Regions from separate parts of the Homo sapiens genome. Here region 2 is linked to region 1. A link means that fine-mapping ties the variant in region 1 to the expression of a gene that starts in the linked region. Tissue or cell type: iPS cells. Region 1 holds a variant in brackets; the other region holds the start of a gene. All regions are shown on one strand. Distances are from middle to middle. Region 1 overlaps TRDN (triadin). Region 2 holds the start of TRDN (triadin).

Evidence for each region.
Region 2: TRDN starts here. The variant in region 1 is fine-mapped to the expression of TRDN in iPS cells (PhLiPS, PIP 0.95).

The regions. Positions count from the first base shown.
Region 1 is chr6:123,583,359-123,588,739 of GRCh38, reverse strand. The region is part of intron 1 of TRDN (triadin); the gene reads left to right. Among named protein-coding and RNA genes, the nearest start is that of TRDN, 51 kb to the left of the region's middle. The variant G/C (reference allele first, on the strand shown) is at 3,394.
Region 2 is chr6:123,634,515-123,639,895 of GRCh38, reverse strand. It overlaps TRDN (triadin), which reads left to right and starts at 2,946. Exons shown (of 41, transcript NM_006073.4): 1 at 2,946-3,142. The coding sequence starts at 3,121. The region is part of intron 1 of LOC105377981 (a long non-coding RNA gene); the gene reads right to left.

The DNA of each region.
Region 1 (5,381 bases):
CTTACCCTTAATGTAATGGTATTTATAGATAGGGGCCTTCAAGAGGTAATTAGTTTAGAATAGCCTTCAGACTCTCAGAAGTAAATGTCTCCTGTTTAAGCACACTAGGGATAGTATTTTGTTATGGCAGCCCAAGCAGACTGAGATCATAAATCATCACACATTTGTAAATTGATGATCAGGATTTTTATTCATTTTGTAAAGTAAAAATAAAACTCTAAATCCCCAACTTACTGAATGGCTCCTTCCTCTCTGCCCAGGGAACTCCAAAGTAAACCTGAAAAACTAGTTCAGGCCATGATGGGAAGGAGGTGTCAGACATGTCTCCTTATATCTCCTTCCCTTTGGAATTCAGGTGCAACTTGCCAGCATTAACATTAAAACAGAGATTTTTAAGAGTTGCGAAACAGACTCTTTGTAGCAATAAGATACCAGATTCCAACTTGACTAGTATAGCATCATGTGACAGATAGCAGACCCTACAAGAAATAAAAATATTGTACCCCAAAATATATTTGACATATTTTGAAATGGCCTTATTAGGCTGTCTCTTGCGGAAAATCTACATTCTGTAGAGAATTTCCCTCCCTTTCCAGATCTTGTCCTGATGCAGGAGAGAGTAACTGAGAGTCTAGCACCTTTTGGGGTCTGATAAGAGACATTTGCCATCTATTCTCTCTGAAGCCTGCTACCTGAAGGCTTCACTTACATAATAAGAAACTTGATCTCCATTGTCAGGCCTCTGAGCCCAAGCTAAGCCATCATATCCCCTGTGACCTGCACGTACACATCCAGATCGACAGTTCCTGCCTTAACTGATAACATTCCACCACAAAAGAAGTGAAAATGGCCTGTTCCTGCCTTAACTGATGACATTGTCTTGTGAAATTCCTTCTCCTGGCTCATCCTGGCTCAAAAGCTCCCCCACTGAGTACCTTGTGACCCCCACTCCTGCCTGCCAGAGAACAACCCCCCCTTTTGCTTTACCTACCCAAATCCTATAAAACAGCTCCACCCCTATCTCCCTTCACTGACTCTCTTTTTGGACTCAGCCCACCTGCACCCAGGTGAAATAAACAGCTTTATTGCTCACACAAAGCCTGTTGGTGGTCTCTTCACACGGACGCACATGAAATTTGGTGCCGCGACTCAGATCAGGGGACCTCCCTTGGGAGATCAATCCCCTGTCCTCCTGTTCTTTGCTCCGTGAGAAAGATCCACTTACGACCTCAGGTCCTCAGACCGACCAGCCCAAGGAACATCTCACCAATTTTAAATCGGGTAAGCAGACTCTTCTTACTCTCTTCTCCAACCTCTCTCACTGTCCCTCAACCACTTTCTCCTTTCCACTCTTCAATCTCTTCCTTCTCTTAATTTCAATTCCTTTCATTTTCTGGTAGAGACAAAGGAGACACGTTTTATCCGTGGACCCAAAACTCTGGCGCCAGTCATGGACTAGGGAAGGCAGCCTTCCCTTGGTGTTTAATCATTGGAGGGACACCTCTCTGATTATTCGTCCAGGTTTCAGAGGTGTCAGACCACGCAGGGACGCCTGCCTTGGTCCTTCATCCTTAGTGGCAAGTCCCGCTTTTCTGGGGAAGGGGCAAGTACCCCAACCCCTTCTCTCTGTGTCTCTACCTCTTTTCCACCTTTCTGGGGGGCAAGAAACCCCCAACCCCTTTTCCTTCACCCTGAGCAGCAAGTCCCGCTTTTCTAGAGGAGGGGCAAGTACCCCAACCTCATATCTCTGTGCCCCCATCCCTTATTTCCGTGCCCCAACCTCTTATATCGCTGTACCCCAATCCATTATTTCTGTGCCCTAACCTCTTATATCTCTGCACCCCAATCCCTTATTTCCATGCCCTGACCTTGTATCTCTGTGCCCCGACCCCTTTCCCGCTTTTCTGGAGGGTAAGAACCCCCAAACCCCTTCCCTCCATGTCTCTACTCTCTCTTTTCTCTGGGTTTGTCTCCTTCACTATGGGCAACCTTCCACCCTCCATTCCTCCTTCTTCTCCCTTAGTCTGTGTTCTTAAGAACTTAAAACCTCTTCAACTCTCATCTAACCTAAAATCTAAGTGTCTTATTTTCTTCTGCAATGCCGCTTGACCCCAATACAAACTCGACAGTAGTTCCAAATAGCCAGAAAACGGCACTTTCAATTTTTCCATCCTTCAAGATCTAAATAATTCTTGTTGTAAAATGGGCAAATGGTCTGAGGTGCCTGACATCCAGGCATTCTTTTACACATCAGTCCCTCTATAGTCTCTGTTCCCAATGCAACTCATCCCAAATCTTCCTCCTTTCCCTCCCACCTGTCCCCTCAGTCCCAACCCCAAGCATCACTGAGTCTTTCTACTCTTCCTTTTCTACAGACACATCTGACCTCTCCCCTCCTCGCCAGGCCGAGCTAGGTCCCAATTCTTCCTCAGCCTCCGGTCCTCCACCCTATAATCCTTTTATCATCTCCCCTCCTCACACCCGGTCCGGCTTACAGTTTCATTCCGTGACTAGCCCTCACCTGCCCAGCAATTTACTCTTAAAAAGGTGGCTGAAGCTAAAGGCATAGTCAAGGTTAATGCTCCTTTTTCTTTATCAGACCTCTCCCAAATCAGTGAGCATTTAGACTCTTTCATCAAATATGAAAAACCCAGCCCAGTTCATGACTCGTTTGGCAGCAACCCTGAGACACTTTACAGCCCTAGACCCTAAAAGGTCAAAAGGCCGTCTTATTCTCAAAATACATTTTATTACCCAATCTGCTCCCGACATTAAATAAAACTCCAAAAATTAAATTCTGGCCCTCAAACCCCACAACAGGATTTAATCAACCTCGCCTTCAAGGTGTACAATAATAGAAAAAAGTTGCAATTCCTTGCCTCCACTGTGAGACAAACCCCAGCCACATCTCCAGCACACAAGAACTTCCAAATGCCTGAACCACAGCGGGCAGGCGTTCCTCCAGAACCTCCTCCCCCAGGAGCTTGCTACAAGTGCCAGAAATCTGGCCACCAGGCCAAGGAATGCCTGCAGCCCAGGATTCCTCCTAAGCCACGTCCCATCTGTACGGAACCCCACTGGAAATCGGACTGTCCAACTCACCCGGCAGCCACTCCCAGAGCCCCTGGAACTCTGGCCCAAGGCTCTCAGACTCCTTCCCAGATCTTCTTGGCTTAGCGGCTGAAGACTGACGCTGCCCAATCGCCTCGGAAGCCCCCTAGACCATCATGGATGCCGAGCTTCGGGTAACTCTAACAGTGAAGGATAAGTCTGTCCCCATCTTAATCAATACCAAGGCTACTCACTCCACATTACCTTCTTTTCAAGGGCCTGTTTCCCTTGCCTCCATAACTGTTGTGGGTATTGATGGCCAGGCTTCTAAACCTCTTAAAA[G/C]TCCCCAACTCTGGTGCCAAATTAGACAATACTCTTTTAAGCACTCCTTTTAATTATCCCCACCTGCCCAGTTCCCTATTAGGCCGAGACACTTTAACTAAATTATCTGCTTCCCTGACTATTCCTGGATTACAGCTACATCTCATTGCTGCCCTTCTTCCCAATCCAAAGCCTCCTTTGCGTGCTCCTCTTGTATTCCCCCACCTTAACCCACAAGTATAAGATACCTCTACTCCCTCCTTGGCAACCGATCATGCACCCCTTACCATCTCATTAAAACCTAATCACCCTTACTCCAATCAATGCCAATATCCCATCCCACAGCATGCTTTGAAAGGATTAAAGCCTGTTATCACTTGCCTGCTACAGCATGGCCATTTAAAGCCTATAAACTCTCCTTACAATTCCCCCATTTTACCTGTCCTAAAACCAGACAAGCCTTACAAGTTAGTTCAGGATCTGCGCCTTATCAACCAAATTGTTTTGCCTATCCACCCCGTGGTTCCAAATCCATATACTCTCCTATCCTCAATACCTCCCTCCACAATCCATTATTCTGTTCTGGATCTCAAACATGCTTTCTTTACTATTCCTTTCCACCCTTCATCCCAGCCTCTCTTGGCTTTCACTTGGACTGACCCTGACACCCACTAGGCTCAGCAAATTACCTAGGCTGTACTGCCGCAAGGCTTCACAGACAGCCCCCATTACTTCAGTCAAGCCCAAATTTCATCCTCATCTGTTACCTATCTCGGCATAATCTCATAAAAACACACGTGCGTTCCCTGCTGATCGTGTCCGATTAATCTCCCAAACCTCAATCCCTTACAAAACAACAACTCCTTTCCTTCCTAGGCATGGTTAGTGCGGTCAGAATTCTTACACAAGAGCCAGGACCGCACCCTGTAGCCTTTCTGTCCAAACAACTTGACCTTACTGTTTTAGCCTAGGCATCATGTCTCCGTGCAGCGGCTGCTGCCACCCTAATACTTTTAGAGGCCGTCAAAATCACAAACTATGCTCAACTTACTCTCTACATTTCTCATAACTTCCAAAATCTATTTTCTTCCTCATATCTGACGCATATACTTTCTGCTCCCCGGCTCCTTCAGCTGTACTCACTCTTTGTTAAGTCCCACAATTACCATTGTTCCTGGCCCGGACTTCAATCCAGCCTCCCACATTATTCCTGATACCACACCCGACCTCCATGACTGTATCTGTCTGATCCTCCTGACATTCACCCCATTTCCCCATATTTCCTTCTTTCCTGTTCCTCACCCTGATCACGCTTGATTTATTGATGGCAGTTCCACTAGGCCTAATCGCCACACACCAGCAAAGGCAGGCTATGCTATAGTACAAGCCACTATCCCGCCTCTTTGAACCTCTCATTTCCTTTCCATCGTGGAAATCTATCCTCAAGGAAATAACTTCTCAGTGTTCCATCTACTATTCTACCACTCCTCAGGGATTATTCAGGCCCCCTCCCTTCCCTACACATCAAGCTTGAGGATTTGGCCCCACCCAGGACTGGCAAATTAGCTTTACTCAACATGCCCGGAGTCAGATAACTAAAATACCTGTTAGTCTAGGTAGACACTTTCACTGGATAGGTAGAGTCCTTTCCTACAGGGTCTGAGAAGGCCACCACAGTCATTTTTTCCCTTCTGTCAGACATAATTCCTCAGTTTAGCCTTCCTACCTCAATACAGTCTGATAACAGACAAGCTTTTATTAGTCAAATCAGCCAAGCAGTTTTTCAGGCTCCTAGTATTCAGTGAAACCTTTATATCCCTTACGGTCCTCCATCTTCAGGAAAAGTAGAACAGACTAAAGGTCTTTTAAAAACACACCTCACCAAGCTCAGCCACCAACTTAAAAAGGACTGGATAATACTTTTATGACTTTCCCTTCTCAGAAGTCAGACCTGTCCTCAGAATACTACAAGGTACAGCCCATTTGAGCTCCTGTATAGACGTTCCTTT
Region 2 (5,381 bases), 51 kb before region 1:
TAAGAAACAGAAAGCCTTGACAATAAACTCTAAAATTTACTTTCTCTCAAATATCCCCAGTCTCTGAGAAAATAAGTGAGTAATGGTAAATACCAATCTACACCCAACTATGTCTCTTTTTGCACATCATAGAGAAAACAAATCAGCACTGAAAGAGGTAATGCAGTATGGTTTGACTTTTTTTAAAAAATTAATTTTATTTTATTATGGTGGAAACAAATCAACAAAACTTCTCTGATTGCCTCCCAAATATTTTGCCATTTTGAAACTTGGTGTGGATGACAGTATTTTGCTCATAGCTAAATAGAATACATGTCTTATTGAGTGTTTATGATAATAGCAGACACAGGAGCAAGGTTTAAAAATTTCTCTAAGGGAGAATATTTTTATCTACTAACTTGAGTATTTAGAATAACTAGTGAATATTACAAGGGGTAATGATCAGTATAATCAGGTTGGAGATGCCCCTTGACCTAAATGCGACATTAATAGGAGAACAAATTTTCACAGTTTATCATTTACTTATATAGACTAGCTCAGTTATTAATGTCCTAATTTTATAAATATCCCTGTATGCAAAACTATGACAAGTCTACCTGTGCTGATTGTGCAGAAGTGGGATGTGAGAGTTATTCCAGGAGCTATTGCTGAGAAGAGAGAAATATCACTTTTGGGTCCTTTTGAAAGAGCTCAATGAACTGGTAACATCTCTTTAAAAATGAAGACCCTTTAAAAATAAAGAAGGGCAAATGAATCGTTTGTAATGTTTTATTCTTTGAGTTCCCTGAAGAGTAGGTGTACACACTTGTAAGAATGTCAGTTGCTTGGTTTCAGAAAGCTTGGCAGGGTTCCATTTGGAATTCAAAGACATACCTCATGAATGGAGTTTCAGATAAATTGAAAGAGTCCTAATAACTTTTCAAAATGAGAACCATGCCAATTTCTCACTGCCTAATGACATTCATCAACTCATCTCACAGAAAGGTTTGAAAAAGCTATTATCTTCAAAACATGTTTATTGTCTAGAATATGTTTTCTTTTATTTTTCCTTCCAGTATGTTTAACATGAAAATAGTGATTGGGAACTTAAGACTAACATCAATACTAGGAATTTAGTATTTCTTTTCTAGAGTCTTATTTTAACTTTTTATTGAGTAAAACTAGTTTGAAAAGTTGAGTTTTTTCCTGTTCCAGAGCCTAATTTTATTTAGGATCTGACCCATGAAAATTCTTAATGAGTTACATAAGATGTCATTCCTTCAGTTAACTACAATGAAAGATTATGAAAGTAACTGATGAATGGAGATATGAAGTGCTACGTTTTTCAAAACAATTGGAACTGCTGTGGCACTATTGACTGGAGATTCTTTGTGGGGGGCAATGTAAGGAGGGCTTTTCTCTTAGGATACCTCCTTAGACCAACCCAGAGCTCTGGGAAGCTGCTCTTGAGGATTTTGTATCTTTTCATCCCGCTAGTGGGCCTAATTTGCAGTGACCCCCTTTACCTTAAGTCATAGTATCTGCAACAAGGCCTCATTTCTTGGGGAAGATAGCAAACTTGTAGTTAAAAGGCTCTAGGCCCAGTCCTAGATATAGGAATTGAATAAAATCATGAATGTAATCATGTAATCATTTCCTCCTTGTAAATTAAGATTTGTTACTAATTTATGTATTCAGCTGGTAAATGAGCAACTTTCTATTGTGTCAGGAATGGGGGCAGTAGATTAAGACAGAACCACTAACAGGGAGGAGGTCATTGCCTATGGAAATAGCTGTTGCAGCACTCTTCTGAGCCTGAATTTTAAAAATAACAAACATGGCTTTGCTTCATGATCTATGAAGTACCATAGGAATTCGGGAGGTCTGAAAACGAAAAGTATCAAGTTCAAGCTAAAAGATTAAACTACAAGCATTTATTAGGTTGAATATGAGAATAAAATAAAAGTGTAGTCAACCCTTGATTATTCACAGATTGGCTAGAGTTTATGATTATCAATGCCCTTCGATTCTCCTTTTGCTTCCAACTACCAACTATTGAATATTTTTTTGCTCATTAACACCTGTCTAGGAGTGGGAAGGTGAAATGCTAATCAGCCAATTTGGTTAATTGTTAGTGGCTGCTATAATCCTTTTTTTTTTAAGTTGAGATAAGGAAATACTTTACTTAAATATTGGCTGTGGACTACTAAACTTTATGTCACCTTCCCTTCCTTTTTACTGCATGGATAAATGCAGGTATTTAGTTCTTAGTAAGGTAGTAGAGAGAATTAAAAAGATAGTAATTCATCAATCCAATGTTTTTCAAGTATCACACTATAAATTCACATTACATAATTCTTATTGGCCAGTGTTCAGAAAATATTAATCTTCTACAATATGACTACTTTAAAAGAAAGCTTCAAGATTTAATAGTTGCAATTTTAAGTGTAGCCCTATATAAATAACTGCACTTGCTAAGTGGATTTGTATCAACAGGAACATAACTTCTAGAAAATTACTCAAGACTACCCTCCCTTTTGCCTGTGATAGACATTTGGGACCCTCCCCAAACCAAATAAGGGAAAGAAGAATGTTCTGAGCATTAAGAGCACTAAGAATAAATCTGAGCTCTCACGGATAAGATTACTTTCAACTCTTTATTTCATGTTTTCTGACATAGACCCCAGGATCTGTAATTATCTTAGAGAAACTGCGGGGGCTTAGATGGTACTTTGTAGTTCATTTGGTTTTTTTTGTTTGTTTGTTTGTTTTTTGCCTTTCTCTCTTTGGGGCTGAAGAGCTGGTGTGTCTGTGTGTGTGTTCCTCTAGAGTGCCAAAAAAGAAAAAAAAAAGTGCTGAAGAGTCCTAGGGAGATGAGGCTATTTTTGTTTGAAGCTGATACTTCTAGCTGAGCCACAAGTGCTGCTTGGAAAGGGCTTAGGTTGTTTCCAGGGGGAGAACTCTGCAGAGGAGAGGCAAAGTTCAACAGGACAACAAAGAAGCAGCAGAAACAGCCAGGAAAACGAAGAGCCCCCAGGTTTTGACACAGAACCCTCCACCAGAGTTCTCAAATCCCCAAATACTCTGCAAAGTGCAACTTGACGGGAACTTTTCAACTGACTTTTACTTTTGACGACCACCATGACTGAGATCACTGCTGAAGGTATTGCTACCATTTTCCGATAGTATCAAGTAAGGAAAAAAAATATGCAAATCGACAGCCACATTAACTGTCGATGTGTCCATTTAAAATGTTGCTTTAAGGTAATTGCCTTGGTCAATGATTCTATACAGGATCTGAGAAGTGGATTTAGGAGCTGAGAGGCTGCCAGATCTGTATATTGGGGGAGCAAAAAGAGATTTCTCTTAAATTTTGCATGTGGAAACTGTTCTCTGCTATACCAAAGGCCCCACTAGTTAACAGTTGTTACTCACACCTCTATAAATAGCTATGGTCATGTAACATGATGGCCGATATCTTATCCAGCAAAAATTACAAAGTTTTCAAGGATGGAGACCATGATGAACTTAAAATATTACACTAATGCTTACTTAAAATATTACACTAATGCTTACTTAAACTTAAAAAGTAATTTGAAGCATTTCTGCTTTATGATATTTTTAAATGGAGACCTTAAATTTGTTTTTCCTTTCCTACTAGGGTATGTAAAACACACATACATATATATGATTTATATACAATTTAAGACATAAGTGTTCCCATAAAATTTGTATTTATTTGACCATTAATGGAAATTCAGAGATAAAGACTGGAATTCCACAAACTTACTGTGAATCAGTATGATTTTTAAAATAAAGCAATTAAGTGTTAGAATTCTGGTTCTTTTTGTAAATTCATTCTTCATTTTCCTCTAAATGGTAAATTCTATCTTTATGTTACAATAAATATTTTCTGTTTCAATGCTTTACTGAAAGCTACATACTATAATACATATCTTCTATTTGATGGTTGCTAGTTATATATATTTATATTTCATATATACTTCATATATATATGTACGTATTTCTTAGAATGAAGGAAACCTTCAAAACTAAATTACTTTGAATACAGACACAGTCTGGTTCTAGTTGAGGTAAAACTTTTGGAGGTGGATCTAAAATTTGCTTCTGACAGCTGTAAGAAAATCAGACAGGTGGTGCTCTTAACAACTTCCAAGTTAAATGCTGTGCTGGTTTGCTTTGAATAATACAACTGAAAAATAGAATATTTGTTTTTATTTTTGAGGGTAGAAATTAGTATGGACACACAGTAATTTCTGTTGGAGATTTTTAGTCAATATTTATAAGAAGTGCCTTATTTGTACCTTGCACTGAGAAATTCAGTCTGACACCTCGTATTAATAACAATTACTGAGAGATTTCTATGTGTTAGGTATTTTGCTCAGAACGTTATGTGTGTTTACTTATTTAAAACTGACACAATTCAATTAAGTAGGCATTATTATCTCAGTTTGGCAGAAAAAGGAACTGTAACTAAAATGTTATGTGACTTGCTCAAGACCAGCATTACCAACATTTAAACCCAGCCCCTTTAAATCTTGTTTGTGTGTGTGTGTGTGTGTGTGTGTGTGTTTTCTTTTCTGTGAGAGGATATCAGGTTTACTCTTTACCAATTTTAGTTCAGAATTTGCTAACTAAATATAAATAGCATTTTTCCTATTCCTTAGATATTCTGTGTCATGTTGCTTTTAGTTTGCCTTAAAGAAAGCTATGTATAAAAACTTCTTGTTTAGCTCTGCACAAGTTATTAAGATAGCTACGAGCGTCTTAATCTTCTGTTTCTCTACCTCTGTTCAGGGTTTGGGCTCCCAGGTGATTCAGGAGGTCAGTTGACTAAACCATCTTGGGCTTGCTTGTGGATTATGTTTTGTAGAACTTGCATTTGATTCAAAAGACTTTTTACAGGAAAATTCTTGATTATGAAATAGAGCTTTTGTTTCTGCCTTTGCTCTGCGGGGGTTTAAAAGGGCCTTGGAAGACCTTCTGGAGTTACCCATAAAAATAATTACATTAGTAATAAAATTAAAAAGTAGAAATACCATCTAATTCTTGGGTGATGGTCATTTTCCACTTCCGGGCCTTAACAGTTCATAGGATCTATGTTATCTGAACATCAATTATGCATTTTTTTTTGTTTTCTGGAATGATTTATTAATAATATTTCTCAAATGAAAATTAGACTGCCAACTCAAATGAACTCATCTTTTAAGGAAGCACAGTCATTCTTTGATGATATCCAAAGTTTTTTCACACTTTGTTACTACACAGTTTCATGTTATCTTTGCAATTCTCACCTTTTGTGCCCTAGCTACAATTGTCTTCCTCCAGTCTTTTATAAAAGGTATACCTTTGTACAGTGCCTTGGTACAGGCTATTTTCTG